Homo sapiens: one gene and its partners. The protein of the gene in region 1 purifies or fractionates together with the protein of each later gene. This does not show direct contact. Each region holds a gene or a part of one and is shown on either strand. Other genes may lie near its edges. The genes, in order: HECTD1, SMC2, URGCP and ZNF622.

What was found.
Region 2: the proteins of HECTD1 (region 1) and SMC2 purify together in Homo sapiens (affinity purification with mass spectrometry; 3 studies listed by BioGRID, with this or other methods). This does not show direct contact.
Region 3: the proteins of HECTD1 (region 1) and URGCP purify together in Homo sapiens (affinity purification with mass spectrometry; 4 studies listed by BioGRID and IntAct, with this or other methods). This does not show direct contact.
Region 4: the proteins of HECTD1 (region 1) and ZNF622 purify together in Homo sapiens (affinity purification with mass spectrometry; 4 studies listed by BioGRID, with this or other methods). This does not show direct contact.

What each region holds. Positions count from the first base shown.
Region 1 is NC_000014.9:31,106,794-31,113,827, forward strand, and holds part of HECTD1 (E3 ubiquitin-protein ligase HECTD1), read right to left. Parts: intron 6,692-7,034; coding exon 6,484-6,691; intron 6,397-6,483; coding exon 6,311-6,396; intron 5,751-6,310; coding exon 5,623-5,750; intron 2,806-5,622; coding exon 2,604-2,805; intron 912-2,603; coding exon 774-911; intron 461-773; coding exon 1-460. UniProt on the Homo sapiens protein: E3 ubiquitin-protein ligase which accepts ubiquitin from an E2 ubiquitin-conjugating enzyme in the form of a thioester and then directly transfers the ubiquitin to targeted substrates.
Region 2 is NC_000009.12:104,111,284-104,118,317, forward strand, and holds part of SMC2 (structural maintenance of chromosomes protein 2), read left to right. Parts: intron 1-297; coding exon 298-531; intron 532-2,032; coding exon 2,033-2,192; intron 2,193-2,680; coding exon 2,681-2,798; intron 2,799-3,407; coding exon 3,408-3,546; intron 3,547-4,916; coding exon 4,917-5,036; intron 5,037-6,887; coding exon 6,888-7,034. UniProt on the Homo sapiens protein: Central component of the condensin complex, a complex required for conversion of interphase chromatin into mitotic-like condense chromosomes.
Region 3 is NC_000007.14:43,903,594-43,911,145, reverse strand, and holds the start of URGCP (up-regulator of cell proliferation), read left to right. Parts: upstream 1-4,549; 5' UTR 4,550-4,570; coding exon 4,571-4,584; intron 4,585-7,552. Other genes in the region: URGCP-MRPS24 (uncharacterized protein LOC100534592), read left to right, coding at 4,571-4,584. UniProt on the Homo sapiens protein: May be involved in cell cycle progression through the regulation of cyclin D1 expression. May participate in the development of hepatocellular carcinoma (HCC) by promoting hepatocellular growth and survival.
Region 4 is NC_000005.10:16,455,801-16,462,800, reverse strand, and holds part of ZNF622 (cytoplasmic 60S subunit biogenesis factor ZNF622), read left to right. Parts: intron 1-4,171; coding exon 4,172-4,284; intron 4,285-7,000. UniProt on the Homo sapiens protein: Pre-60S-associated cytoplasmic factor involved in the cytoplasmic maturation of the 60S subunit.

The DNA of each region.
Region 1 (7,034 bases):
AAAATCTGGCTCTGTGTGGGTTTACTAATTCAAAGTCTTCCCAAGTCAAAATTCCATTAAACCAAGCTGGGGGTTTTGGTTTAGGGGGATCAAGAATAAATTCTGATTTTGAATCCTCTTCAAAGCTTCCTACCGAGAGTGAATCATGACCTTCTTCTGTAGAAGCTTCAGACTGACTTTCAGTACAGTGTAAGTCTCTATCACCTCGTGACTCATAAATCAGTTTACTCATATTGCTTTTAATGTCACCCATACACATAAGTTTAAAAAAAGGTTTAGAAATAGGTAAGTCCACAAGTCTATTGTCTTGAATGCATTTGGCCAAGAAAATTCCAAGGAAATGAAACAGTTTCGTGATCCTTTCAAGCTCATCACTATCCTGTGGAAATGGTGCTGTGAACAGTCCACATGACCTCTGCACATAATATCCAGGAGGTTTCAATCCACCTCCAAGATCAACCTAATTTTTTAGAGGGTGAAATGCAAATAAAATTAAACAAAAGTTAATAGAAACTAAGCCTATCATCATCTAAGAAAAAAATCCATAAACATTAAACATCTTCATGAATTTGGCTATCTAAAAGTATATAATTTTATTAAATAGCTTTTGGTGACTAAATTTTATCGCTTTAGAACTATTTTAATTGCATCAAGATTATTCAATAATAAAAGTAGAGTCAGAAACCTGGCTTATGCTCTGAACACATAACCTATTTTTAACACTTTTGAAAGCAGAGTCACAACTCAAGTCACAAAATGAGAAATATTCTTACGTGACGAGATTCATCATCTGGAAAATTATCATCACAAAGCCAAGCTCCCAAGTCAGTTCTCTGGAATTCTGCTGCCACCAGAGCATAAAACTCTAATGTGGGTCCCAAGCCAGTTCCTTCTTCTCCTAAAAATTCAACCTAAAATATGAACAAATAAATTGTGGGTTAAACGTAAAGTTTGGGGTGTTTTTAAAAATAATCTAATTCTTGTCAAAATTTATCATATCTGATCCAGTAATGTACCTTTTTTCAAAATAGCAGTGTATATATATAATAAACAGCACAGAAGTGTTATTTTAATTTTCCTAAAGAGTCCACTTGTTGTACACTATTACATGCTTAAGCACTGTGCCAAGCATCATTCATACATTTACTTCTCACAACAACCCTGCAAAATAATTATTTCCTTTTTACACCAAAGGAAACCAAATCTCAGATAAGGAGGTTAAATCATTTGCTTGAAGAAATGATGGTGAACAGACTTTTGTGTGTCTCTGTGTGACACCAAAGCCTAGACTCTTCCACTTTTTAATTTTTATTTTTTGAGACAGTTTCACTCTTGTCGCCCAGGATGGAGTGCAGTGGCACGATCTCAGCTCACTGCAACCTCTGCCTCCCGGGTTCAGGCGATTTTCCTGCCTCGGCCTCCCAAGTAGGTGGGATTACGGCATGCACCACCATGCCTGGCTAATTCTGTATTTTCAGTAGAGACAGGGTTTTACTATGTTGGTCCGGCTGGTCTCAAACTCTTGACCTCAGGTGATCCACCCACCTCAGCCTCCCAAAGTGCTGGGATTACAGGCATGAGCCACTGCGCCTCGCCTCTTCTGCTTATTTCTGAGTTAAAGACACTTTAAATCATTTTTGCAACAGGAAGAGTATGGACAAAAACCCTTAAAGTGATTGCATAAAGTATAATAAAAACTACAGCATATGGTTAAAAAAAAAGATTATCTATATTAGAAGAATGTAAACAACTGGGCATGGTGGCTCAAGCCTGTAATCCCAGCACTTTGGGAGGCCGAAACGGGTGGATCACTTGAGCCCAGGAGTTTGAGACCAGCCTGGGAAACATAGTGAGAACTTGTCTCTATTAAAAAAAAAAAAAAAGAAGAAGAAGAACATAAGGGTAGGAGGAATACAATGAAAGTCTGTATATAAAGTGAAAGATGTAAAGCCTTGGACATCTTCTAGAGATGTATCATATTTCTTGCAATTAGTTTATGATCCAAAAGTTAAAAACAAACCAGTTGGATTCACCCCTGTGACAGGAGACGTATTTCCACTCTTCCTCATATAGGGAATACTGTGTATATGAAATAAAACCAACAATGTCCACAGTAACATTTCTAAACTAAATATATTAAATGTCATACTACCATTTGCTATAACATGTCTCAACACAGACCAGTGATATAATACCAAGCACAATTCAAGTGAAACAATATTACAAAACCAGGTGCTCCCAAAATATCAAACAGCACAGTTTAATGTAAAAGTAAAAAAGAATCCCTTGTGAGTACTACTATTTTAGTCCAACTTTGTTATGAAATGGGTAGAAGCCCTCAAGCAGAACAAGCACTTTGCCACCTCAAGAGTGGAGATCTTCTTTGTTGCTCATTAATGGCACAAGACCTAACCCCTAAGGAGGTGGACTGACATCCTCTTATGAAAAAGATGCTCTGCCAGAGGAGAAGGCTTCTGCCTACAGAACAGGAAAACCCCTCTTCATGTTTACCTACCACAGTTTTTAATGCAGTGAAGATACACATTGGGCTGGTTCCCTAAGTGTCATTCCTGTTCCCTAAATCTAATTTTATATGAGATTACCTCAAGAACTGATTTCCGATCTGCATGTATTTGCATGACATTCTCAGCCCATTCCATCAGTGACTCGCCACGTGGAACTTTTACTCTTTCATGCTTGAGACGACCAACTCGAAACTCTCCAGGGTCATCTCGCCTAACACTGCTTGTGGTTCTCGTTCGCTCCACAGTGGCTTCACGTCGGTTCTGTAACCATACTATTGCTCTGAAATAGAAAAATATCTATGAGCTGCAGCATACGTTAACAGCTGAATGTACTACTAAACCAGCAACAGAATTCAAAGATTTAAGAAATTAAAAAATAGTATTTTATCAGGTGATTTTTAAAACACAGTAATCTTTTTTTGTTACATAAACTGCTTCCTGTCACAAGTAAAAATATATGAAACTCCTTTTATTATAATCTGCCTTAAGCAAACTGAGAAAGTACTGGGTCTATATTTTGCCTCCTTATTTTAGCAGTTCAATAAAAATAATAATCTGTTGTCCAAGCCCCAACATCATTCAAAAAAAGGAAAAATGTTTCCTATCAGAGAAATTTAGAAATGATTAAGCTATCTTTCAAACTGAAAGCCGCCATCAAAACGGTAATTATAATTTTAAAACAATTTTTCTTTTTTTTTTTTGAGATGGAGTCTTGTTCTGTCACCCAGGCTGGAGTACAGTGGCATTATCTCGGCCCACTGCAACCTCCCTATCCCGGGTTCAAGTGATTCTCCTGCCTCAGCCTCCCCAGTAGCTGGGATTACAGGTGTGTGCCACCACGCCCAGCTAATTTTTGTATTTTTAGTAGAGATGGGGGTTCTGCCATGTTGCCCAGGCTGGTCTTGAATTTCTGGCCTTAACTGATCCACCCGCCTCAGCCTCCCAAAGTGCTATGATTACAGGCATGAGCCGCCACACCCGGCCACATTTTCTTTTTTTTAATAACAATCCATTTATGGTGGGAGGAAGAACCGACAATTAGGAATAAGAAGCTGAAGGTTCTACTCTCATGTGTGCTACTATTTTCTCATGATCTTAGGCAAATCAGCTAAGTACGTGCAGAATCAATTTCCTCATTTATAAAACAAATTATAATCAATGCCAGTTATCACAACATGCCTATAGTTCTATGTATATAAATGCTTTGTAAATGGCATTAAATGGTACAAAAATGTAACTATCAGGGAAGAAAACAAACAGTTTAAATTATAACTTTTTTTTTACAACTATTTTGGAAGAGTACTTAAGGTAAACAATCATTCAACAAAATATTTATTGAGCACCTACAATGAGTCTTGCTCTGTTGCCCAGGCTGGAGTGCAGTGGTGCAATCTCAGCTCACTGCAACCTCTGCCTCCCGGGTTCAAGCAAATTCTTATGCCTCAGCCTCCTAAAAAGCTGGAATTACGCCCAGCTAATTTTTGTGTTTTTTTGTAGAGATGGGGTTTTGCCACATTGGCCAGGCTGGTCTCGAACTCCTGGCCTCGAGTGATGTGTCTGCCTTGGCCTCCCAAAGTGCTGGAATTATAGGCATGGGCCACCGTGCCCAGCCTGAAAACAGAAACTTTTTAAATGCTTTTTTTTTTTTGGTAAATTACTTCTTCCATGATTAGAGGGACTATCTTCAAAGTAGTACAAATATTTCGTAAATAATATCTGACCATTTTCTAACCAATTGAGTAATTTGTTGCACAATAAGCCATCTCACATCTTTCAGCAAGAAATACATTAAATTTGAATAGTAAAGACATTACACAATTAGGCTTAGGACAAAATTAAAATTTGCCTGAAGTATTTCTTTGGGGGAGAGGACACCACACTTCTACTCAAGGAAGAGAAACATTTTTACAGTCCAGAGGTCTTTTATTTTTATCTTTATTTTTTATTTTTTTGAGATGGAGTCTCGCTCTGTCGCCCAGGCTGGAGTGCAGTGGCACAATCTCTACTCACTGCAAGCTCCACTTCCCAGGTTCACGCCATTCTCCTGCCTCAGCCTCCCAAGTAGCTGAGACTACAGGTGCCCACCACCACACACAGCTAACTTTTTGTATTTTTAGTAGAGATGGGGTTTCACCACGTTAGCCAGGATGGTCTCGATCTCCTAACCTCATGATCTGCCCGCCTCGGCCTCCCAAAGTGCTGGGATTACAGGTGTGAGCCACCGCGCCTGGCTATTTTTTTTAAACACTATTATGCATGAATTCACAGAGAAGAGGTTCCAGCAGCTCAGACTTCTTTCCCTTGGTTTTCACACAGCGCGCTTCTCTGGGTGGAACAGGCTGGCACTTCAGCTAAATGCAGGTACCTTTCTCTTTGGCTTCCTTCTTTTTCTGATCATTTTCCTTCATGTGTTTCAGGAAGCTATCTCGGCTCTTAGAGTGCTTAATGTGCTCAATATGCACATTAATTCTCTTGGTAAGAATCTTGCCCTTGTTTGTTTACAACAATGCCATTAGCCACGCGTGGTGGCGTGCACCTGTAATCCCAGCCACTCAGTGGGGCTGAGGCAGGAGAATCGCTTGAACCTGGGAGGCGGAGGTTGCAGTGAGCCGAGATCACACCACTGCACTCCTGCCTGGGCGACAGAGCGAGACTCTGTCTCAAAAAAACAAAAACAAAAACAAAAACAAAAAAACAGCAATGCCAACAGCCTGCTGGGTAACACTGTAGACTCTTCCAGTTTAGCCACGGTAACACTTGTGGGGCATTCCTTTTTGAACAGTACCCATTCCCTTAATGTCTACAGTATCACCTCTCTTTTAGATTTGCATATACGTGGCCAAAGGAACAACTCCATGTTTTCTAAAAGACCTAGAAAACATCTATCGGGTATCTCTCCTCCTTTCCTTTGGATTAGTCATTTTGGCGAATTACTAGAAGATTGGTAGTTCAGGCCAAAAGGCAATGCTGACTATTCTTTATAAGAATACAAGATAATATATTCCCTCTATCAGTCTTGACAGTATAGTTGTACATTTTCAACTTACATAACATAAAAGCATACTTATTCTAAAAACATAAAAAAAAGGCTTCTTACCTTGAGGCGCCAAATGCTGTACATGTGAAATAAAGCTGTCTAGTTTCAAATGGTATTAGAAAAGGACATTTGCTGGTTAATTGTTCACACCAGTCTGGCAGAGCCCCACTTGCCAGTGCCAATGGTTCCTGCGAATTAACAAATAATAATGTCTTAGTGCTATAAGGCATTCATGCATGCATGCATTCATTCATTCGTTCATTTTTTTTTTTGAGACAGAGTCTCACTCTGTTGCCCAGGCTGGTGTGCAGTGGTACGATCTCGGCTCACTGCAGCCTCTGCCTCCTGGGTTCAAGCGATTCTCCTGCCCTAGCCACCCAAGTAGCTGGGATTATAGGCATGTGCCACCGTGCCCAGCTAATTTTTGTATTTTTAGTAGAGACTGGGTTTCGCCATATTGGCCAGGCTGGTCTCGAACTCCTAGCCTCTAACGATACACCCACCTTGGCCCCCAAAATGCTGGAATTACAGGCATGAGCCACCACACCTGACCCTATAAGGCAATTATTAAAAATTACCAAGTCAATTATAAACCTGTAATTAGGAAATAAATGCAAAGGACCATATAGCTCAAATTACCAATCAGAGGGAAGGGAAAGATGGTGAGAGGTAGAAAAGAAAGTAAAGGGAATATTAGGAAAAGTCCAACAGTAATAGAATGAAGAGTTCAGCTGTCTGATTTTATTACCTCAATCTGCTGTAATATTTTTGTTGTAATTTTTTTGCTAGTGAATTCATCTGGTGGAAAAGTAAACTGAGGCTGTTCATCACCATCTATAAAATTAATTAATAAAATTAATAAAAATATAAACTGACTTGCTTTAAAACTGCTATAGAAATGAAACAAGGCTTCTTACAGACCTTCCTGGGATATTCTTGAATAAGGGTCACTTGCAACTATATATAGAATACGCAGAAGCTGAAGGACATCTTCTACTCCACAAGAGTTCTGTCCATTGCCTGCTTTGGCCTGAGGTTGTTCTTTTGTTAAATTAAGAATATCACTACTTTGAAGAGTAGAAATGGCCCCCTGGTTTAACCCAGACTTTGTTCCATGCTCACAAAAATCCTATAGAAACAATTAGAAAAACTGGCCATTAATCACATTTTCAAGAAAAACAGTGTATCATTGTATCAATACCACTATGAAAGGGTTGGAATTTTTTAAAGTGCCTTCTTTTTAAATAAAAACATAACACAAGACATAAATCAAGGCATTCTAAACCATTAAAATTCCCAAATAAAATATAACCACTCTAAGCCATGGTCAAAGTCTGCATTCAGATCCAATGCTACCAGCCATATTTGAAATTTTAGAATTTGTGCATTAACAGTGTTAATTCAACCTCATTTTTAAAATTATGTCTCAATGAACTGCTGTTCCTTAAGAAGCTTCCAAAGCTGCAAAACAA
Region 2 (7,034 bases), on another chromosome or scaffold:
TCATTTTTAGTCCCTTCAAGTGATTTGTTTAAATCTGCAATTATTATTTAGCCCAATGTCTCATGGATTTAATTTATAACATGGAATGAACCAGTAGTATAAGAGTTATATTTATTCTAAAAACTGAGAGTGAATTTCAAAATGATAATTCAGTATTTATAAAGTTATGATGGTTAAATTATTTTATTATGCTCACTCCAAATTGCTATGGAATTTTATTACATAAGGGTATGCGTATAAGAAAGTGGGTGTTTTTCCTGAAATATAATATTTTTCCATTTGAAACTCTTCCTAAAGGACTCAAAAACTTTAGCAGCAAAGGAAAAAGAGGTTAAAAAGATAACAGATGGACTGCATGCCCTTCAAGAAGCAAGTAATAAAGATGCTGAAGCTCTGGCAGCTGCACAGCAGCACTTCAATGCTGTTTCCGCTGGCCTGTCCAGTAATGAAGATGGAGCAGAAGCAACTCTTGCTGGTCAAATGATGGCCTGTAAAAATGATATAAGTAAAGCTCAGACAGAAGCCAAACAGGTAAATAGAGACATTAGCACTATGTGATTGCTTTTTTTTCCAAGAAGTTTCTTTTCATGTTATGCTTTGGCAATTGTTACATAATGTTGAAAATAATCAGTCTCAAGGAACTTGTTTGTTTACTTTATTCTGCAACTCTAATGCCTAATGCAGCGAAATTCAAATATGTTGATTGCTAAATATTGGTGATGTTAATTTGTGAAGATGCTGTACTACATAAATTATCTTAATTCGGTATGTAAGTGCAATAAATGCTTTGTTCTGTTTGCAGCATTGTGTGGAATTTTCGAGATTAATGCATTTATTCTTGTCTCTTTTTGGCTATTTTTATTTTTTATTGATAACATAATGTTGAAGTCTTAAGCTTTAACAGGAAAACAGGATTGTCCTCCCCATTGCTTTGCCTGCCATACCTAGTTCTTAAAACCTTGTTTCTCAAACTTTACATTTTTTTAGGAAGTATCTCTACCTCACATGTAGCCACATTCTAGTCTGCTCTCCCTACTCTGATTTCATAATCTTAAAAGTCTTGTCAGTCTATTATAATGTTTCTCAGATTTTACATAGTAGTGCAACTTACAGTCCTATGAACATAAGAATTTTGCTAGCAGAAAAAATACATGTACACAGGCACATCATTGTTTTGTTTTTAATGGAAGACACAGATTTTAAAACATGTACACAAATGTGTGTGATTATGCGTTAATCCTCAGGTTTTTCTCTTTATATATTTGCAACTTTTTCATTCAGGCATGACAGATGATAGTCACAAATTTATAAGAACTCTCAATAGTAGAAAAGCTTTAAAGTACTCTACTCTCAGTTTGTCTATTATTTTATAAGGGAACTGGGAAAAATACATCATTATACAGTTTTGGAGGATACCCCCATCTAAAACCCCATCTAGGTTTTAGAATACTAGTTCATAGTTTTAAGAAGCAGTGTTCAAGTGTATAAATTCTTGAAGGCCTGACACATGTAATTTAAATAGTTCTAGCATTTAATTATCAGACTCAGCATTTAAGTTTCTCTGTCAGTTTAGCTTCTTTTCCTGTATAATCTTACGTCTTATTGCTCAATTCAGTTTCTTTACTGTTATTAGATAGCACTCACAAATATATACACATACAAATATGAACAACTAAGCGGAAAGGAAAAGAACGAGAGTTGTGATTTCTAGCGTTCTTTTTTTAATTACCAGCTACTGACAGTTATTCGATATAATCCTTCAATTTGAATATGTCATATTTTATTAAAAATACGGACTTAAATTTCAAATTCTTTTACATATTAATCATATATTAGTTTATACTTTGAGTAGTTTTTTGAGGAGAAAATACTGGGAAATGACTAATTTGTTGAAATACTAATCCAAGAGACCAAACAATTAAACTTTGAAGGTTAAGGTCTCTTAGTAAAACCAATCTGAATCTTCGGCCATTTAATTACTAGCACTGTCTGCCTCATACATCCTATGGTCTGTTGCATTTTTCTGCCACAGGCTCAGATGAAGTTGAAGCATGCTCAACAGGAATTAAAGAATAAACAAGCTGAAGTTAAGAAGATGGATAGTGGCTACAGGAAGGATCAAGAAGCTCTAGAAGCTGTAAAAAGACTTAAAGAAAAACTTGAAGCTGAAATGAAAAAGCTAAATTATGAAGGTTTGCCTTTAAAAACATGATAATCAGATCATGAGGAGGTAGTGATTTTTGATAAAAAGCTAATTTAAATAAAGAACGCAAGCAAGTAGGAAACATTTCTTAGCCTATTAACAAGCATTAGTATAAGAAGTGTTGTAAATATCGTCAAAAAATACCTAATTATAAAACAACTCTTGAATTTTTGAGAACTCAGTATTGAGAATTTCCTGCTTCAATCATTTGAAAGCTCAAAAATGTCATTTGTGTATTTCTACATTAGGCATTCAGTTTGTATGTTATTTTTTGGAATGAAAATTGTGTTATTTGCCGTTGGAAATAATGTCTGTTTGACAGTGGATAGAAATAGGAAGGTTCAGCATGCTTTTTTAATACTTACAGAAATTTGTATTTTTTGCATGCTTTGGAAATAGTGGTTGCTAATATTTTCCTTAAAACAGTAGAGTGAGCTTTTAAAACTTGGTTTTAATTTATTATGATTTATCCTTCAGAAAATAAAGAGGAAAGCCTTTTGGAAAAGCGCAGGCAGCTGTCTCGTGATATTGGTAGATTGAAAGAAACATATGAAGCTCTATTAGCCAGATTTCCCAATCTTCGATTTGCATACAAGTAAGAGACTTAAGCCTTGAATTTTAACATAGTAATAATCAAGACATTTTTATTTAAGCTGGAAGCAGTGTGAAAATTTTGTCGAAACCAAGATTTTTGTATGAAACTTGTTGTAAGCTGCTTTTCTTTCATTGGTATTTTTCCTTTAAACATTTGTTGAAATGTTTTAAATGTTGGCAGGGAAATTCTTGTGAAATTTAATGGCTAATGATGCCACTAATCTTAAAATGAGGGAAATTTAATCTCAGTTCAAAATGTCTTCAGAGTTACTGTATCATTAATGTTAAATATCCACATTTACATCTTATAATTTGTTTTGCTATGTGGGTTTTTTATGGAATATTTACAGTAATCATATGTATTATAGGGATTAGAACATCAGAGTTGTTCTTACTACATTGAAACATACTGAAAGATCTATTGTGATTTAAAAACAACAGCTGGCTAGTCATTTGGGACATTTTAAAATTTTTGGTTTGTTAAAACCATTTTGCTGATTCTACTTTCATTTCACTTTAATGTGTTGTCCAAAAGAGCTCCTGATGAGTAAAGTATAACTTTTTCTACTTTATTATCTAAGATTAATTTTTGTCAACTTTTGTATTTCAGGGATCCAGAGAAGAACTGGAATAGAAATTGTGTGAAAGGACTTGTGGCTTCTCTGATTAGTGTGAAAGACACTTCTGCAACCACAGCTTTAGAATTAGTGGCTGGAGAACGACTCTACAATGTTGTAGTAGACACAGAAGTAAGTTGATTTTAATTTTAAAAAATTTAAAATTTGGTTAGCTTGAAAAGTCATGTGCTGCTAAAAGAATTAAATACTTTGATGTTTTAAGGCTCTCCCCTAAGGTGACTTATTTATAGGGTAAAACTATTTGGTTCATAACTTTTTGATAACTATTCCAAAGGAGGTCTCATGCTTACTCAGAAACTCAGAATGCATATTACCAATCTTAAACTTTTGGGATCTCTTTGCTGTATAAGTTGAATTTAATTTGTAAAATAATCTGGGAATAAATGACCTGTTTTTGATGTCAGTCTTCCCATCAAGGTAACATTGAATTTATTTACATTTCTTCAGTTCTCACTTATTATCCTTCTGTAGAATGCTCATATTCTTTCCTGTAAATGCTACGTAGTCATTGTCAAATTTACTTCCTTGTTTTTTTTTTAATTTATTTTATATATATATTTAAAATGTACAAGAAGCCTGGGTATGGTGGCTCACACCTGTAATCCCAGCACTTTGGGAGGCTGAGGTGGGCAGATCATTTGAGCCCAGGAGCTCGAGACCAGCCTCAGCAACGTGGCAAAACCCCATCTCTACTGAAAATACAAAAGTTACCCAGGCGTAGTGGCGTGCGCCTGGAGTCCTAGCGACTCTGGAGGCTGAGGCACAAGAATTGCTTGAACTTGGGAAGTGGAGGTTGCGGTAAGCTGCGGTAAGCTGAGATTGCACCACTGCGCTCCTGCCTGGGCAACAGAGGAAGACTGTATCTCAAAAAAAAAAAGAAAAAAACAAACGTACAAGATGTTTTGATACATATACATAGTGAAATGATTATTGTAGTCAGACATATTAACATAGCCATTCACCTTCCATAGTTACCTTTTTTGTGTGTGACAGCACCTAAAATTTACTCTTAGCAAATTTTCAGTATATAGTATTAATTATAGTCCTCATGCTATACATTACATCTCTGAATAGGTAGATTTATTTATCCTACCCAACTGCAAATATGTACCCTTTGACCTATGACCTACTTCTACCCATTTTCTTTCACTCCTCATCCCTGATAACCACTATCCTACTCTTTTTATTTGTTCAGCTTTTTTTTTTAAAAGATTCCATGTACAAGTGAGGTCATACAGTTTTTTATTTTTTCTTCGTCTGATTATGTCACTTAGCATCATGTCCTCTGGGTTTATTCATGTTGTCCCAAATGGCAGCATCTCCTTTTTCAAGTTCAAATGATGTTCCATTGCATATGTAATTATAACTTGATTGGGATAAATGGCACTAAACATTCATTTATTATAGACTACTAAACTTGCATTCTCTCAATTTTCTGTCATTTTTAACATGCGTTTTTTAAATTCAAATGTGTGTTGTAGGTTACTGGTAAAAAGCTACTAGAAAGGGGGGAACTGAAACGTCGATACACTATAATTCCACTCAATAAAATTTCAGCCAGATGTATTGCACCAGAAACTCTGAGAGTTGCTCAGAATCTTGTAAGTCTCATTTTGTCTTATTTATATGTTTAATCGTCATCTGTGGTTTTTTTAAGTTAGAAGACATTAATTTTGAGGGACATAATCATATGCAGAACCACAAAATTAAAATACAAAAAAATTGGGTTGGCTTGTGCAATTAGATGATAAGAGAATAGAGATGTTGGAAGACTTGAACTCCTTTTGATGCTTCACTTTGTGGTATTAGAATGTCCTTTTTAACCTTAAGTCACATGACTATCAATCAGGTGATGGTGAAAATTACACTCTTGATTCCTGAATGGTTAGAACTGAGCTTCTAGATACGTACCCCAAATTCTTCAAGTTTTTGTTTTTGTTTCTTTTTATGTCAGGCATACTAAAACTGCCCACAGTCACAGCCATTATGGAAGGCCTTCATTAGTATTGCAGTGATGCTTCTTTATTAGAGTTCTTCTAGATTGCTATTCAGCCTGTGCAGGTACATAGCAGGTGACCAGGATCCCATTCAACTGCTGACGTTGATCTAAAGTGACATGCTTGCTAGTAAGAAAATAGATTAGTACAAGGAAATACATTTAAAAGTTATTGTAGTTGTGTAATACTGTAAAAACATGAAGTCAGTCATAACATTCAGCTGTAATATCAGTTTTTTTATTGATCAGACATTCCAAGTACATCAGTTGAAAAGACATTTCTATGAAACTTAAAAATATACTTGTAACTAAGTGGATGTTGTTGTATCCTTAGTTACATTCAGAAGATTTCAATGCAAATGATTTCAAAATACAGTTGTGTTGATATGTATACTATCAGGAGAGGGAGGATGAGTGCTGAGTAATTGAAAGGTGATGTTTTTGGTTGGTACTTTCTTTACTTGAAAACTCACCATTAAGTCAAGAAGGCTCAGGAAGTTAATTCAGCCATACATCGAGTCCCAGCATTAGAAGGAAATTGGGATTTCAAGTAACAGCAAAAATACTTTGCCTCAAATCCTTTAGCCAAACCTATTTGATGGTAGCTGCCACATCAAAGAACAATACTGAACATGTGTTACATAGAGCTTCCTTCATTGTGACTGCCACTGCTGATACTAAGCTCTAAAAGAGATGCTTAGTTTTTCTTAAATGATGGGCAGAGGTAGCCTCTATAAACAAAGGCTGAGAAGAAGCATTGTGATCAAAATAGAGGACTGGGGATTTTTTAAATTACTTTTACTCTCAGTTATTGTGTTTTCATTTCTGTAACTGGCAGACGACTGCTCTAGCATGTTTCATTTGTATGAGAAAATATTTGTTGTGAAATCAAATTCCTGATTATTGAAACAACATTTTCATATAGTTGTGTTGATCTGGAAATTATAGGTTAAGCACTCCAAGTCCAACAACTGAAATTTTCCAAAATTCAAAACTATGACACCCAAAAAATGCTCATTGGAGTATTTTGGATTTAGAAAGTTCAACCACTGTAATACAAATATACCAAAATCTGAAAACAAACACTTCTGTTCTAAGCATTTAGGATAAAGGATACTCAATCTGTACTATAATTAAAGTTGTGTCCAGTCAACGTTGGTGAAGGACACTTAGAAACATGGTAATGGCTCCTTATTGATAGAAACTTTCATAATGCTCCATACTAGCTATTAATAAATATTTTACTTAGCAATAAATCTTTCAGTATTTAAACCTGCAGTTTTTTTTTCCTGAAACTTTGAGTTTTACATAGCTTTTTAGAAAATTCAGAAAGAGTTTTAATGCTAGGTAAGTATTATTTAAGTTTCTATTACAGCAGTTTTTACTGGTTTATAAAATCATATCTGAAAGGAAAAGTAGTAGTATGTACTGTGGCATATCTGTTGTTGTCCCACAGGTTGGCCCTGACAACGTTCATGTGGCTCTTTCCTTGGTTGAATATAAACCAGAACTTCAGAAAGCAATGGAGTTTGTCTTTGGAACAACATTTGTTTGTGACAATATGGATAATGCCAAAAAAGTGGCCTTTGATAAGAGGATAATG
Region 3 (7,552 bases), on another chromosome or scaffold:
TACAGGTGTGAGCTACCGTGACTGGCTGGTCCAGTTTATTTATAGTGCTGTTCAGGCTGTCTATTTTCTTATGGTTCTCCTGTCTGATTGTACTATTATTGAAAGTGGGGTATTGAAGTTTCCAACTTTTATTGTAGAAGTCTGTATTTTTTCTCTTTAATTCTGTCAATGTTAGCTTCATATTTTTTGGGGATCTTTTGTTTGGTGCATACATGTTTATCATTGTTATGTCTTCTTAGTGAATTGACTCTTATCAATATGTAATGTTCTTTTTATTTATTTATTTTTATGAGAAAGAGTCTTGCTGTGTCACCCAGGCTGGAGTGCAGTGGTGAAATCTTGGCTCACTGTGGCTTCAGCCTCCCAGGCTCAAGAGATCCTACCATCTCAGCCTCCTGAGTAGCTGGGACTACAGGTATGCATTACCACACCTGGCTAATTGTGTTTATTATTTGTAAAGACAAGGTCTTACTATGTTTCCCAGGCTGATCTCAAACTCCTGGGCTCAAGTGATCCTCCCACCTCAGCCTCTAAAAGTGCTGGGATTAAAGGTGTGAGCCACCATGTCAGGACTTTTTGAAAAAAAATTTTAGTGTAAATTTTTAATAAAAAGATGGGACCAGGCATGGTGGCTCACATCTGTAATACCAGCACTATGGGAGGCTGAGGCAGGTTATTGCTTCAGCCCAGAAGTTTGAGACCAGCCTGGACAACATGGGGAAATCCTGTCTCTACAAAAAAAAAAAAAAAAAAAAAAAAAAAATTAGCCAGACATGGTGGCACATGCCTGTAGTCCCAGCTACTTAGGAGTTTGAGATGGGAGAATCACTTTGAGCTGGGAAGTTGAGGCTGCAGTGGGCCATGACTGCATCACTGCACTTCAGCCTGGGCAACAGAGTGAGACCGTGTCTCATAAATAAATGAATAAACAAATAAATAGATCAGTTCTCACCATGTTGCCCAGGCTGGTCTTGAACTCCTGGCCTCAAGTGATCTTTCTGCCTTGGCCTCCCAAAGTGCTGAGATTATAGGTGTGAGCCACAATGCCCAGCCTACAATTTTCTTATATGTCTCTTGTAACAGGGTGTCTTTTATTTTTTTTGAGATAGAGTTTGGCTCTTGTTGCCCAGGCTGGAGTGCAATGGCACGATCTTGGCTCACCACAACCTCTGCCTCCCGGGTTCAAGCAATTCTCCTGCCTCAGCTTCCCGAGTAGTTGGGATTACAGGCATGTGCCACCACGCCCGGCTAATTTTGTATTTTTAGTAGAGAACAGGGTTTCTCCATGTTGGCCAGGCTGGTCTTGAACTCCTGGCCTCAAGTGATCCACCCATCTCAGCCTCCCAAAGTGCTGGGATTACAGGCGTGAGGCACAGCACTGGCCAATTTTATTTATTATTATTATTTTTTAAATTATTTTTTATTTTTATTTTTGAGATAGTCTGTCACCCAGGCTAGAGTGCAGTGGCTGCAGTCACTGCAGCCTCCACCTCCTGGGTTCAAGCAATTCTCCTGCCTCAGCCTCCTTAGTAGCTGGGACTACAGGCACACGCCACCACACCCAGCTAATTTTTGTATTTTTAGTAGAGATGGAGTTTCACCATGTTGGCCAGGCTGTCTCAAACTTCTGACCTCAAGTGATCCACCCGCCTCGGCCTCCCAAAGTGCTGGGATTACAGGCATGAGCCACCGTACCTGGCCTAAAATACTGGTTTTTAACCTATGAAGTTGGCAATGATTTTGAAAAATTGTAAAAGTTACACAGTGTTTTGGAAAACTAGGACTATCAGGTGATTGTGCTGGGAAGGCAATCTGTATATATGTGTGTATATGTTGTGTATGTGTATATTTGTGTGTCTGTATATATGTGTGTAGGTATATGTATACATATGTGTGTATGTGTATTATGTATTTAAGTATATGTATATTAGTGTGTTTGTGTATGTGTGTAGGTATACACATACACATACACAGAGTATATATGTTTCAGAAGAGCCTTAAAATACTGATATCCTATTGATCTAGAAATTCAACTCTTCAAAATTTGGCATAAGGAAATAATCATTGATGTTTATGGGATGTTTTGGCTATAAGGATATTTATTACTCACATTCCTTATAATAATGAAATACTGGTAGCAATATTTATGTCCAACAGTAGGGGTTGGTTAAACATGATGGTCTAACCATATAGTGGGATGCTAAAATTCATGTTAAGTGTACGGGCCACGGGAAAGTTTCTCCTTGCCCTCTGAAGATTTACTGAAAAATCAACTCACAAAAAGCAGATTAATTGAAGAAAAGGCATACAAATTTTATGAATGTGTGCACAGGGAGAATTACAGAATGATTTCCCACCACCCAACAAGGTTCAGAAGCTTGTAGACCATCTTGGCAAAACAACTTACAGGAGGGGAGAAAGAGGAATTCTTTCAAGGGGCAATAAAGGATTACTAGGGAGAAGGAATGGATCAGGGCACAGAGATTAACTTGTACGCTATCCTATGAAAGGGTCTTTTCAGGTGTGGTTACATTCTTGGTCTTACAGGGAGGGCAAGAAAAACAGTTGTTCTCCTTGGAGGGTCTGGACTTTAAGCAGATAAAGACATTTTCTGTTTTGGGAGAAACCAGTGGGGAGGGAGATCAGAGAGACCTTGAGACTTCTTCAGTTCAGCTTGTTAAAGTGCCATATTTTGGGGTTATTGGTTTCTGAACCAGATTTTATGTCAGTAAACATGTATTCCTTATGTTTAAAAGAATGCTTATTTAGGCCAGGCATGGTGGCTCACGCCTGTAACCCCAGCACTTTGGGAGGCTGAGGCAGGCAGATCACCTGAGGTTGGGAGTTTGAGACCAGCCTGACCAACATGGGGAAACCCTGTCTCTACTAAAAATAGAAGAATTAGCCAGGTGTGGTAGTGGGCGCCTGTAGTCCCAGCTACTGGGAGGCTGAGGCAGAATTGCTTGAACCCGGGAAGTGGAGGTTGCAGTGAGCCAAGATCTCGCCATTGCACTCTGGCCTGGGTGACAGGGCAAGACCCTGTCTCAAACAAACAAAGAAAAAATTCTTTTAGTTTGATCTCCTTCATTTCATTACTCCCTTGAATCAGGCATTTAGGATTTAGGATTTCCCATTCCTCAAACTCTTCCTAACTCTGGTCCTCCTGGATTTGTCCTTATTTTGGGTGTCACAAGTTCGCGTGGCTTTACCTATCAGCTCCCATTTACAGAGCATTAATTATCTTCTGAACTCAAGGTAGCAGTTATGAATTTCTTTACCGAAGAGGACAAGGAGGCTCAGAAACATTGACTGGATTCTCCCAGGAGGAAAAGAGACCATGCATCACGCAATGTTTACTAACATTTAAAAATAGTTACAAATGTTTACAAATATTAATTCATTTAATCTTCACAGAGAGGAAGGGACTTATTTTTAGCCTTATTTTTCAAATAAGGAACTGTGGCCCTGGAAAGGTTCTATCTTGCAGGGGCTCCTGGGGCTGGTAATTGGTGGAGCCCAGATTCCAACACAGGTATTCTGGCTTCAGAGCTAAGGTTTTAATCACTGCTTTGCTGTCTTGTATTCTTAATAGTAGTAAACATTTTTAAATAGTGGTTGTTAATGATATTTTACTTTTAACTTTAATTTTATTTTTAAAAATGAAACGGGCGGGGCGGGCAGGGGGTCATCTCAATATGTTGCCCAGGCTGATCTCAAACTCCTGGGCTCAATCGATCCTCCTGCCTCGGCCTCCCAAAGTGGTGGGATTACAGACGTGAGCCACTGCGTTCGGCCAGTGATATTTAATATAATACTAAAAATGTTATCAACAATGGTTTACATTGTCCAGAGCTTTTTATTAAGCATTTTCACTTAGATCATTTTTGGAAACTCATTTTGCAGAGAGAAGAACTGAAGCTGAAAAATCTACCTGCCTAAGGACTCATAACTTGTAAGAATAGTTGTGAAACCTCACTGGAGGAACTGCAGATTCATTATTTTTCTTAATAACACACTATAAAGAATAATAAAAGTGCTTCGCATTGCCTAGAGCTTCACAAGGCCACTTTATACACATTTTACAATGGGTACCGTCTCAGAGAGGCCAGCAACTCGTCCAACACAGCACTGCAAGTAAGAAGTAGGAAAGTTATTGTTTTGCTTAATAATAAGGCCTTACGCTTCAGGGCTAAAGAAAAGCCTTTTCTTACAGAAATTAAACTCCAATTACAGAAAGGTGTGAAGTTCAGTAAGGCCCTGGGGCAGGTTATCCTACAGCTTTTGGCACCGCAGGCACCGCCCGGCGAGTTCCGGCCTCCAGGCACCTGGGCAGGTGGGCGTTGGGCGGGCTGCGGGCTGACCTGGGCCGCCCCGCCCCCACCCCGCCCCAGCTGTCCCCGGGCTGCTCCGAGAGGACCCCGGGCCCACCTTACCCCACCTCACCCCACCTCCACCCCTGGAGCGCGTCCCGGAGCGGGCGGGCGGCCGGCGGGCCAGGCCCCTCCCCGGCGCCGAGCCGCGGCCGCGCGGAGGAAGCGAAGGAGGCGGGAGCGGAGACCTCGCTGCGCTCATGGCGTCGCCCGGGTGAGTGCCGCCTCGCAGGCCCTGCGCCCCCGCGGCTGCCGGCAGGAACGGGAGCGGGACCCGGAGCGGCTCTGGCCTGCGGGCTCTGGTCTGGGATGCGGCCCGGACCCGGCCAGGGGCGCCCCCGCCCGCCAGGCCCACCAGGCCCACGGCCCGCTCGCGCCGACCTTGGGCGGACCGGCCGCGCGGGCGTGGGGGGCGGGCGGGGGCGCCGGCGGAGGACAGCGGTCCCCCGGGATGCGGGGGTCCGGGTACGCGGGCCTAGGGGATCCGGGGAGGGCGCGAGGCCCGGAGGTGCCCGGGGCGCGGCGGGAGCGAGGGCCCGGCGAGCGGCTGGGGAACCGGGGTGCGGGTCCTCGCCGCGGCCCGGGGCAACCCGCGGAGGCCTGGAAATGCTTCGCTCCGGCGCCTGGTATCGATGTTCCTGGGTTTTAAACTTGCTCGCGTTGGGAGTGGACGCTTGTTTGCCGCGTCGTTGAGACGTACCCAGAATGTCAGGATCCGGGCAGATGCAGACCCTTTGCTGACAGCCGGAGAGCCGCTCCGGGATCTCCTTGGTCGGGGCCATTGCCTACCGGCCTGCCTTGGGGTGGCTGCGCTTATTTTGATATTACCTCTTTTCAACTTTTTTGATTTAAATGTTATTCCTTTTAGGAAATGATGGCGACACATATAGTTTGTAATTTTTGAGAAAAAATTCTCACTTGGCAAACTAAAACCTCAGTAATTCATTATTTTTTTGTTTTTTGTTTTGATAATTTTACTAGTACTGAAATTTGGGAATGACAGTCCAACACTTTCATTTTACAAAGAAAGAAATTAGGCTCAAGGTCATCGCTTTAGTTGTTAAAATTCTTCTTTGACTGTTACCCATCATTCAGAGGGTCTTGGATCTAGTGGCTGTGATAGCCATTCAGAACAGTTCCCAAAGAGCTTTACAGGTGTGTGTTCAGTGGTAGGGGTGGGGAGGGGACGGTGCTAAGGGGCCGGGATCATGGATTTCGTGCCTCCTCCAGATGAGGCCTGAGCCATGCCCTGGGGTGATTTGGCTCAGTACAGTGGGCCTGAATGAAGCAAGCTGAATTTGAACCCCGCCTGCTGTCTTTCTAGGCTTTGGGGCAGTGGTCATTTCCGGGACCAGGCCTTTTCATTGCCAGCTGACTACCCAGCACTTTGAGCTCATGAATAGAGTAAGCAGGGAACCATCCCTGGGAAGGCCAGGCTGATTGACCTAGGGGTTCAAGGTCCTGCAGCATTCCTTTCCCCCTTGTCAGGAAAGGGTGGGCAGAGCCTCCTGGAGGCAATGTTGAGGGTGGCTGAACCTGTGTGGGGCTGCCCTGAACGAAGCTTTAAAAAAAAAAAAAATAGTGGTGCATTTGGTGCCCAAGTACACTACTTTGTAGACATGGGTCAGAGGTGGACTTAATGCTTCACTGGTGTTTCTGTGAGCCAGTAGGGCTTAAACTGTGTCCCTGTAGTTGGTGACATTTGGTATTTGCGGTTGTGATTATTTGTGTGACCCCCATGAGTCTGCAGTTTGTAATCTATAATTTTCTGCGGGATATCCATTGCAAAAGCTGAGGTCTCAAAACCTTTAGTATACAAGTCATGCACCACAAAATGACAGCGGAGGACCACGTTATATGACAGTGGTCCCATGCACAAATACTTATCATTGTGTTAGTTGCCTACAGTATTCATACTGTAACATGCTGTACAGGTTTGTAGCCTAAGAGCAACAGGCTGTACCATATTGCCTAGGTGCATAGTACACCTTACGATGTAGGTTTGTGTAAGTTTGCCCTATGATGCTCACACAAGGACCAAATTGCCAAATGACACATTTCTCAGAATGTATCCCTGTTGTTAAGTGACTCATGACTGTTGCTTTATTTCATTTTGTGGGGTAAGCTATGCACATATTATGTACACTGGCAGACATAGCTCCTAAGTGTCCACTTCTACAGGCTTCCCTGGTAGATCAGAGTCTAGCTAGGAAGACAGTGCTTTCTGAGACCCTCAGGGCTATCTCAGTCAGCCAGCTAGCAAACATTTAAGCTACTGCACTAGGTATCTTAGGGAGCAAGTCCACAGATAAAGGGCAGGGATGGGAAGGGACTGGTGATCTGGACTGGGCTAGTCATAGAGGAGTCTCCAAATTGATGTTTTTATTAAGTGACAATCTCCATGAGTTGGGAAGGAAAGAAGAAACGCTGACCATTTTTGAGGACCTTATGAATATGCCAGGCATTGTGCTAAATAAAGGAAATGGCAATCAAAGGATATGAAGGCATCAAAGGAAAAGATGTGTTTGAGAAATGCCCCATGGCCCAGTGTGTTTGGAGCTAAGTGGAGACAAGTTCAGAGGATGAGACTGGGACCAGATGATGGGACCTGGTCCCGTTTGTGGACTCACTGCCCACCACTCGCTGAAGGTAAATGAAACTATTTGCATTGGTGGAGCTCTCAGAGAATCAATGTGACAGCAGTATAGAGACGGCAGAGAGGGCAGAAGACAGGGAGCAGCTCATGCTGCCATCTCCCCTCTTTCGAACAGGCCTCACTCAACAGCTCATCTCTTGTCTTTGCCCCTTGCTTGGCTGTCTCACAACTGCCCAGATCTTCCTTGTCTGCCAGCTCCTCTGCCTGCTCTTTCACTGTTGGGGTTTCCTTGGGCTCTATAATCCATCTCCGCTAGTCCCAACACATGTTCTCTGCATGGTCACATCTGTTTTAGTGGCTTTAACTGTTGTCTGAATCAGAGGTTCTTAACTTAGGCTCCATGATTCATGGATGGGCTTCTGGGGGTCCCTTTGTTCTCTGAAATTGTATGCAGCATTGGGAGTAGTGTGTAATTTTCCTGGGCACAAGGTCTGTAGCTTTCAACAGATTTTCAAAGGGGCTCTTATCCTTAACAATGTTACAACTATTCATCCTAAATTTCCAGATTTTCATTTCCAACTACACT
Region 4 (7,000 bases), on another chromosome or scaffold:
TCACATATTGGGTTCCTGGAGAGTCCTTGCATCACCAGCTGTCTCCTGAAGGAGTTGAGACAGTTGCTAAACCAGGCCCAAACCAGGCATCTGATGGTGAGATTACCCCATTGGTGGTTCACCCCTAACTAGAATCTTTTTTTTTCTCTGAGAAAGATTTTTGCTGTCACCCAGGCTGGAGGACAGTGGCACAATCATGGCCTACTGCAGCCTCAGCTTCCCTGAGCTCAGATGATCCTCCCACCACAGCCTCCCCAGCAGCTAGTGTGCACCAATATGCCCTGCTAATTTTTGTACTTTTTGTAGAGATGGGGTTTCGCCATGTTACCCAGGCTGGTCTTGAACTCCTAGACCCAAGTGATCCACCCACCTCAGTCTCCCAAAGTGCTGGGATTACAGGTGTGAGATACCATGCCCGGCCCTAACTAGAATCTTGAATTTTTTTGTATGTCATTTAGCAAATGTATGTTAAGTACTTGTGAACAACTAGTTGTCAAAATTCCTGTGAGCTAGCACAGGAGATAAGCAGATGTGTATAATTACCATGCCAGGCATGCATAGACCAAGTGATACCATGTTCAGAAAAGTCTCAGTCTTTTAAGTCTTCCTTTTGCATTTTCTCCCTGATTTCTCATTTTGCAGCTGGAGACTTGCAGTTGGTGGACATGACTGGGTGGAGGTAGAGGGGAGGATTAGAGGCTGTGGCAGTAGAGAAGACAATGAATGTCTGCTGGTGGTGGGAAGCATCCTCTTTCAGTATTTATCCCTCTCAAGTTTCCTTTTAGACAGCAGTGTTTATGACCTTTTGACTGATGTTGTAATCAGAGTGGTCAAAGCAAATACCATGGATAGTTAAGCAGCTGCCATCAGCAGTAGGCTTGGAATGCCCAGCACTCAGTCTCTCATCCTGTGGTTATATTCAGAATCCTACCCAGTCTCATAGATTTCAATATCTTCTGTAGGCCCGTGACCCCCACATTTATATCTCTAGTATAGCCTTCCCCTCAGCTGTAAACTGAAGATATCCAGCTGCCTCCTTGATATTTCTACTTGTGTCCAAAAGGAATCATTAACTTAACCTGTCCAAAATCAACTCCTGCTATGCATCCTAGTCTGCTCTCTGTAAGTAAATGGCATCTCTGTCCTTCTAGTTACTTAAGCCAAATGCCATGCAGTCTTCCTTTATTCTTCTATTTTCTTTCATGCTTACATTAGAATCGATCACCAAATTCTGCTTTATCTGCTTTTGCACTATCTATCTTCAGAGGCTGACTGCTTCTCACTACTTCTATGGCTACTACCCAGGTCCAGGGCACCATCATCTTTCGCCTGACTTCCTACAGTAGCCTCCTGCTGCCTGGTCTCCATATTTACATCCTTACTACCCACTATGTTCTATTCTCAAAACTGTAACTAGGGGGATCCTTTTAAAACATTAAGTGAGGTCAAACTCTGCTCAGATTCTTTCAAAGACTACCTATCTTACTCAAAGTAAAAGCCAAAGTATAATGGCCTGCAAGGCCCTGCACATAGTGTGGAGCATCTGTGGTTCTGTGGTTTTGTATTAGTTGCTCTCTGGATTCCTAACTATTCCTCTAATGCATCAAGTGTGTTTCTCAAGACCTTTGCATTTGCTGCTGTATTTGTTTATAGTATTCGCTTAGATATTCACTTGACTTGTCCCTCACTTCTTGCAGGCCTTGACATAAATTTCACCTTCTCAGTGTGGCCTTTTTTGACCACCTTCCATAAAATAACACCTACCCAATCCTTTTTATCCTGTTTTATTTTTCCTTATATCCCCTACTGCCATTGTGTGTATTGTATATTATTTATTGTCTCCTCCTTCTAGAATCTAAGCTTCAAGCCCTAGCCTTTTGTTGTTGTTACTCTTGTTCTTTACTGGGTGTTGCTTAAACCGTTAGTTTGAATTAAAATATGTAACTGATGGAAACGGTTCTCCCTTAGTCCAGATGATGTATTTTTCATTCCATTTACAGTTTTATTCTGTTGGTGCCTAGAAATGAGAAATTATATGAACTTTTCTTCCTAAAAATGAATATTAAATGATTTGTTTGTCTTAAAAAAATAAAAGTCAGCCAAGTGTGGTGGCATGAGCCTGTAGTACCAGCTGCTTAGGAGGCTGAGGTAAGAGGATCACCAGAGGCCAGGAGTTTCAGGCCAGCCTAGGTGACACAGTGAGACCCTGTCTCTAGGGGAAAAAAAGGAAAAAAAAAAAAGTTGATAATGCTTAATAAAGAAAACTTGGAAAATAGAAAGCCTTTACATACAAAGCTAGTGTTTATGGAGTGCTTACCTGCCAGACACTGTTCTAATAAGCATTTTATGTGGATTCACTCAGCTAAAAAATGACAAATTACCTAAATTTCACTCCCCTTCACAAGGTAACTTGTTTACTTATTTTGGACCTGAAACTTTTTATTGAAGAATAAACTTACAGAAAAGTGCATATATGTATACAGCTGGCCCTCTGTAGTCATAGATTCTCCATCTGTGCATCCAAACTAAAGTATTCGAAAAAAATTTTGTCCATACTGAACATGCACAGACTTATTTTTCTTGTCATTATTCCCTAAACGTTTAGTACTGTGTAACAACTATTTACATAGCATTTACAATGTATTAGGTATTAATAAGTAATATAGAGATGATTTAAAGTATGCAATGATTTAGGTTATATGCAAATGTTATACCATTTTATATCAGGGACTGGAACATCTGCAAATTTTAGTATCCTAGGGAGGTCCTGGAAGCAATCCCCCATGGATACCAAGGGATGACCGTACTTGTGATATCATGATTCAGTGTAGTGAAATTTTAAATATAACTAGCACCTAGATCAAGAAACAGCATGTTAATAATACCCTGACATTTCCCTTGTGTGTCCTTCCAGAAACTACCCCTCCTTTCTCCAAGAGTAACTACTATTCTGACTTATAGCTGCATAGATTGGTTTTGCCTGTTTTTATACTTTATATAAATGGAATCACAAAGAATGTACTCTTGGGTGTGGCTTCTTTTGCTCAACTTTATGTTTGGGAGACCCATTCATACTATTTTATATAGCTGTGGAGAGTTCTTACTGTTACAGAGTGTTCTGTTCAGTGCTCCACAACATCTAGTCTACTGTTGATACACATTTGAGTGGTTTCTAATTTGGGGCTATTACAAACAATGCTGCCACATCATTCTAATGTGTCTTTGGCAAATGTTTATAGGTTATCTGTTGTGTGTATATGTAGGAGTTGGGCCAGAGGATATACATATGTTCCATTTTAGAAAATACTGTCAAATTGGTTTCCAAAGTGGTTTTCTATACTCCCACTTGTAGTGAGGGAGAGTTTTTCATCTTAGCAACTTTGGTGGGTGTGTAGTGGCTTTAATTTGCATCTCCCTGATGATGATTACTGCAATCAAGAGGCTTTTTGCATATTCATTGGCCATTTGGATATCTTTTTGTGAGGTATCTGATCAAGCATTTTGTCTATTTTCTTATTAGGTTGTCTGGTTTACTGTTAATAATTTAATGTACACTTTTCCAATTATTTTTTCATGTGTATCTATGAATAGCCTTTGTCAACATTTTTAGGAATATAGAGATTCTTGTGGAACTGCACTGTCCAATATAGTAATTACTGGGTATACCCATATAGCTATTTAAATAAATTGGAAGTTTAATTAAAAATTTAAACATTCAGTTCTTCAGTCAGACTACCTGCATTTCAAAGTTCTGTGCTGGAAAGCTCATGTGATTGCAGTTACTGTATCAGACACAAAGACATATTGATAGAACGTTTTCTGTCATCACAGAGTTCTGTTGGACAGCACTGTTCTATAATTTGTTTTTATAGTGGTTAAATTGAGTATAGCTGCATGTCCAGCTGTACATTCTCCTTCTTCTCTGTTAGACAGCCTTTCTAGGGAAAAACAAATAGAATTCTGTTATATGTCATTTGCTCATTTCTACTACAGACAAAATGCTAACGAGTTGTTTTCTCCCAAAACCTTTTAGCTGGTAGTTCCTACAGCTGCTTCCTCCCCTCTCCCTTTTAGGTAGCTTAGGAAGTTTGCCACATTTGCAAATGAGTTTATGTCTTTTAGTTCAATTTGAGATATTAGTCTATTTATTAGTGCAATTTCTCTGTTATAGGAGTAGCTATCCAGATCACAAGGAAGGGGAGGACCCCAATAAGGCTGAGGAGTTGCCCTCAGAAAAGAACTTGGAATATGATGATGAAACCATGGAATTGATTCTGCCTTCTGGTAAGTGCATTTGTCAAAAATAAATAGCTTAATGCCAGTGGGATTGAGGGAGAAGCATATCTCCATCAATTACTTTCCATACTGAGGGAAATAGACCATAAGCTTAAAGTATATGTTTGGGTTCTCATGTACGGTGTAAACCCTGAAGGTTGCTGCTCAGCTCTAAGTTGCCTGTTTTGTTTAAATTTGATCAGTGTTTCTGTTCATTTCTGGGTTATGATTCAGAATGTTTGATCAGGCATTTCTTTTTTTTTTTTTTTTAGATGTAGACCTTTTCTATTCTGTTCTTTATTTATTTATCTTTTTTGGTCCTGTCTAGGTTTCTCCTGTTAATTGTAACCTTACTGTTATTCTTTGAACTGATTCCTGTTTCCTTTTGTTGCTCAGACTTCCAAATGGTAGTTTGGTGTGGGTGTATCTGACTCATGGTGGAAATTTAGCCACCATGAGGTATGAAAAGATGAAGAATAACCATGAATGTGAGAAGCATACATGGTTGTTTATTGTGTAGGAAGAAAGAATCGTGATTAACTGATAAGAATAGGAGAAGCTACAGAAGACATGTTTGAGAAATGAAAGGGGATGGAAAGGTAGAGATGATAATAAGATCTTAATGTCTGGTATTTACTGAGCAGTTAGCACATTCAGGCAGATGTATTTGTCTTTATAGGCCAACGTGAGTTAGATTCCAGCATCTTCATTTTACATATGAAGCTTAGAGAGGCTGAGTAACTTACCAGGATCACATGCCTAATCAGCAAAGCCTTTTTCCAATATCTGTATACTGCCTTGGGAGATTTGCAGTAACGGTGCAGGCAGGAACAACACACCCTGCTGGTGGAGAGGTCCGCAATGAAGCAGCCTTGTCTTATGGCTTTCCACATAGAATGTCACTGCTTAGGTACAGATGACTATCTTTAGCTCAGAATGATAACCCTGTAAGGCCAAGAGCAGCTTTAGAGTGTGGCAATAGGAGGAAAGGTCAGGCAGAACCTATTTTGAAGATGACAGTTCTTTCTACAGTGATAAGAAGGTTATAATGCAATATATTATTATGGCCTATCTAATACACAGTGGTAAAACCTAAATCCCAGAGAACCTTTTCTAGTCTTTCTCTGGTGACAGTACCCATATAGAACATCAGAAATATGTTTAATAACTTATTTTCCAGAACTGTATGTTTGACTTGTTGTCTCCTTAGCTTCTGCTTCTTAAACGGTAGAATCAGATAACCATAGACCTTAAGTAAATTGAATAAGACAATCCTAGTACAGCAGTGTCTGCCGTGTAGTAGGATCACTATAGTGTTTGCTTCATTTTGCATCTACTTTAGCACAATATATTACAAACCTTAGCATAACGTGAGCATATCTATTCAAGAAATCTAGGATGTTTCAGAGAAGTTTTCATCTAGACTTTAAATTTTTGAAACTTATAAAAAATAAAGAATCCTCAGCTTTGTCCTGGGTGACTGAGTTTTTTAAGGTATCTAAAAAGATACCCATTTTGACCGCCAAAGCCAAGCCCATTTTTGGCTTTGGCTAGCCTTAGAAAGATCTTAGAGAGATCTTCCTCTCCCACATCCAGATGGCTTAGTAACTCCTAAATGTCTTTTGAGTATTTTTGAGTATTTTTTTTTTTGTATTCATTTATCTGTGTCACCATTATACCCTCCTGTCTGGTCATCTCTAATCTGGTTTCCACATGACCACCAAAACATTCTTTCTAAAACACCAGTAGATTTTCTTTACCCTCTGTAGTTCCTCCACTGGGAGCCATTGCCTTTAGGGTAACTTTGAGTTTCTCTCGCTTCTGGTCCCTCAGGTGTGTAGTGCTATTCCTCTACCCCACCCACATACAGTTCTCTTCCTCTGGGTGTTTACATGTGTGGTGCCTCTTTTATTCCTACTTTTCTTGTAAGATTCAACTTATTTAGATTCAACCCTCTGGGAAGGCTTCCTGAACTCATCTTCTGTCCATTTACTGGGTAACAAGAGTCTCTCCCCTGCTGCTGGGACACTAAATCTAGTTACTCAGATTGGACTTCAGTAAAATCAAGCAGGCTATCTCAAAGCTAATGACAAAAAGTATCCACTAGAGGGCACTGTGAGCATTTATTTTGAAGATTGTGGTCTGGCAAGGTTTTTTTGGGTTTCCTTCGTTGCTCTTCAGCTCTTTTGGAGTAAGTTGGTATGAAAGGCCCATTCAATTGGATGTCAGAAATTGTAAGGCCGTTTGTTAAGAAGGAGTGGACATTAGCCTGGTGTGATGGTGTGTGCCTATAGTCTCAGCTAAGGCAGGAGGATCACTTGAGCCCAGGAAGTCAAGAGTCACAAGGCTGCAGTGAGTCATGATCACGCCACTGCACTCCAGCCTGGGTGATAGAACAATATGCTGTCTCCTAAAAACAAAAAAAGAAAAAAAGGAGTGGATGGTCTATAAGTGGCTACTGCTGTGTCAAAAGCTAGATGGACAGGTCGCATGCTTCACCATGACTTAGACATAACCAATCCCTTATTTATTGGGCAGTCACCCTGTGTTCTAGAAAATACTTTTCCTTGATGAGGGCCTTCAAGTGTAGCTGTCCTTAGCCCATCATACGTGGTGCTAATATCAGGTGGTCACTGTCATTGGCACAGGGTAGGGGGAGCTCTGAATGCTATTTTCAGTTCCTTCTTACCAGCTGTTGGAAACCTTGGCATTGAGTAATGAAGCC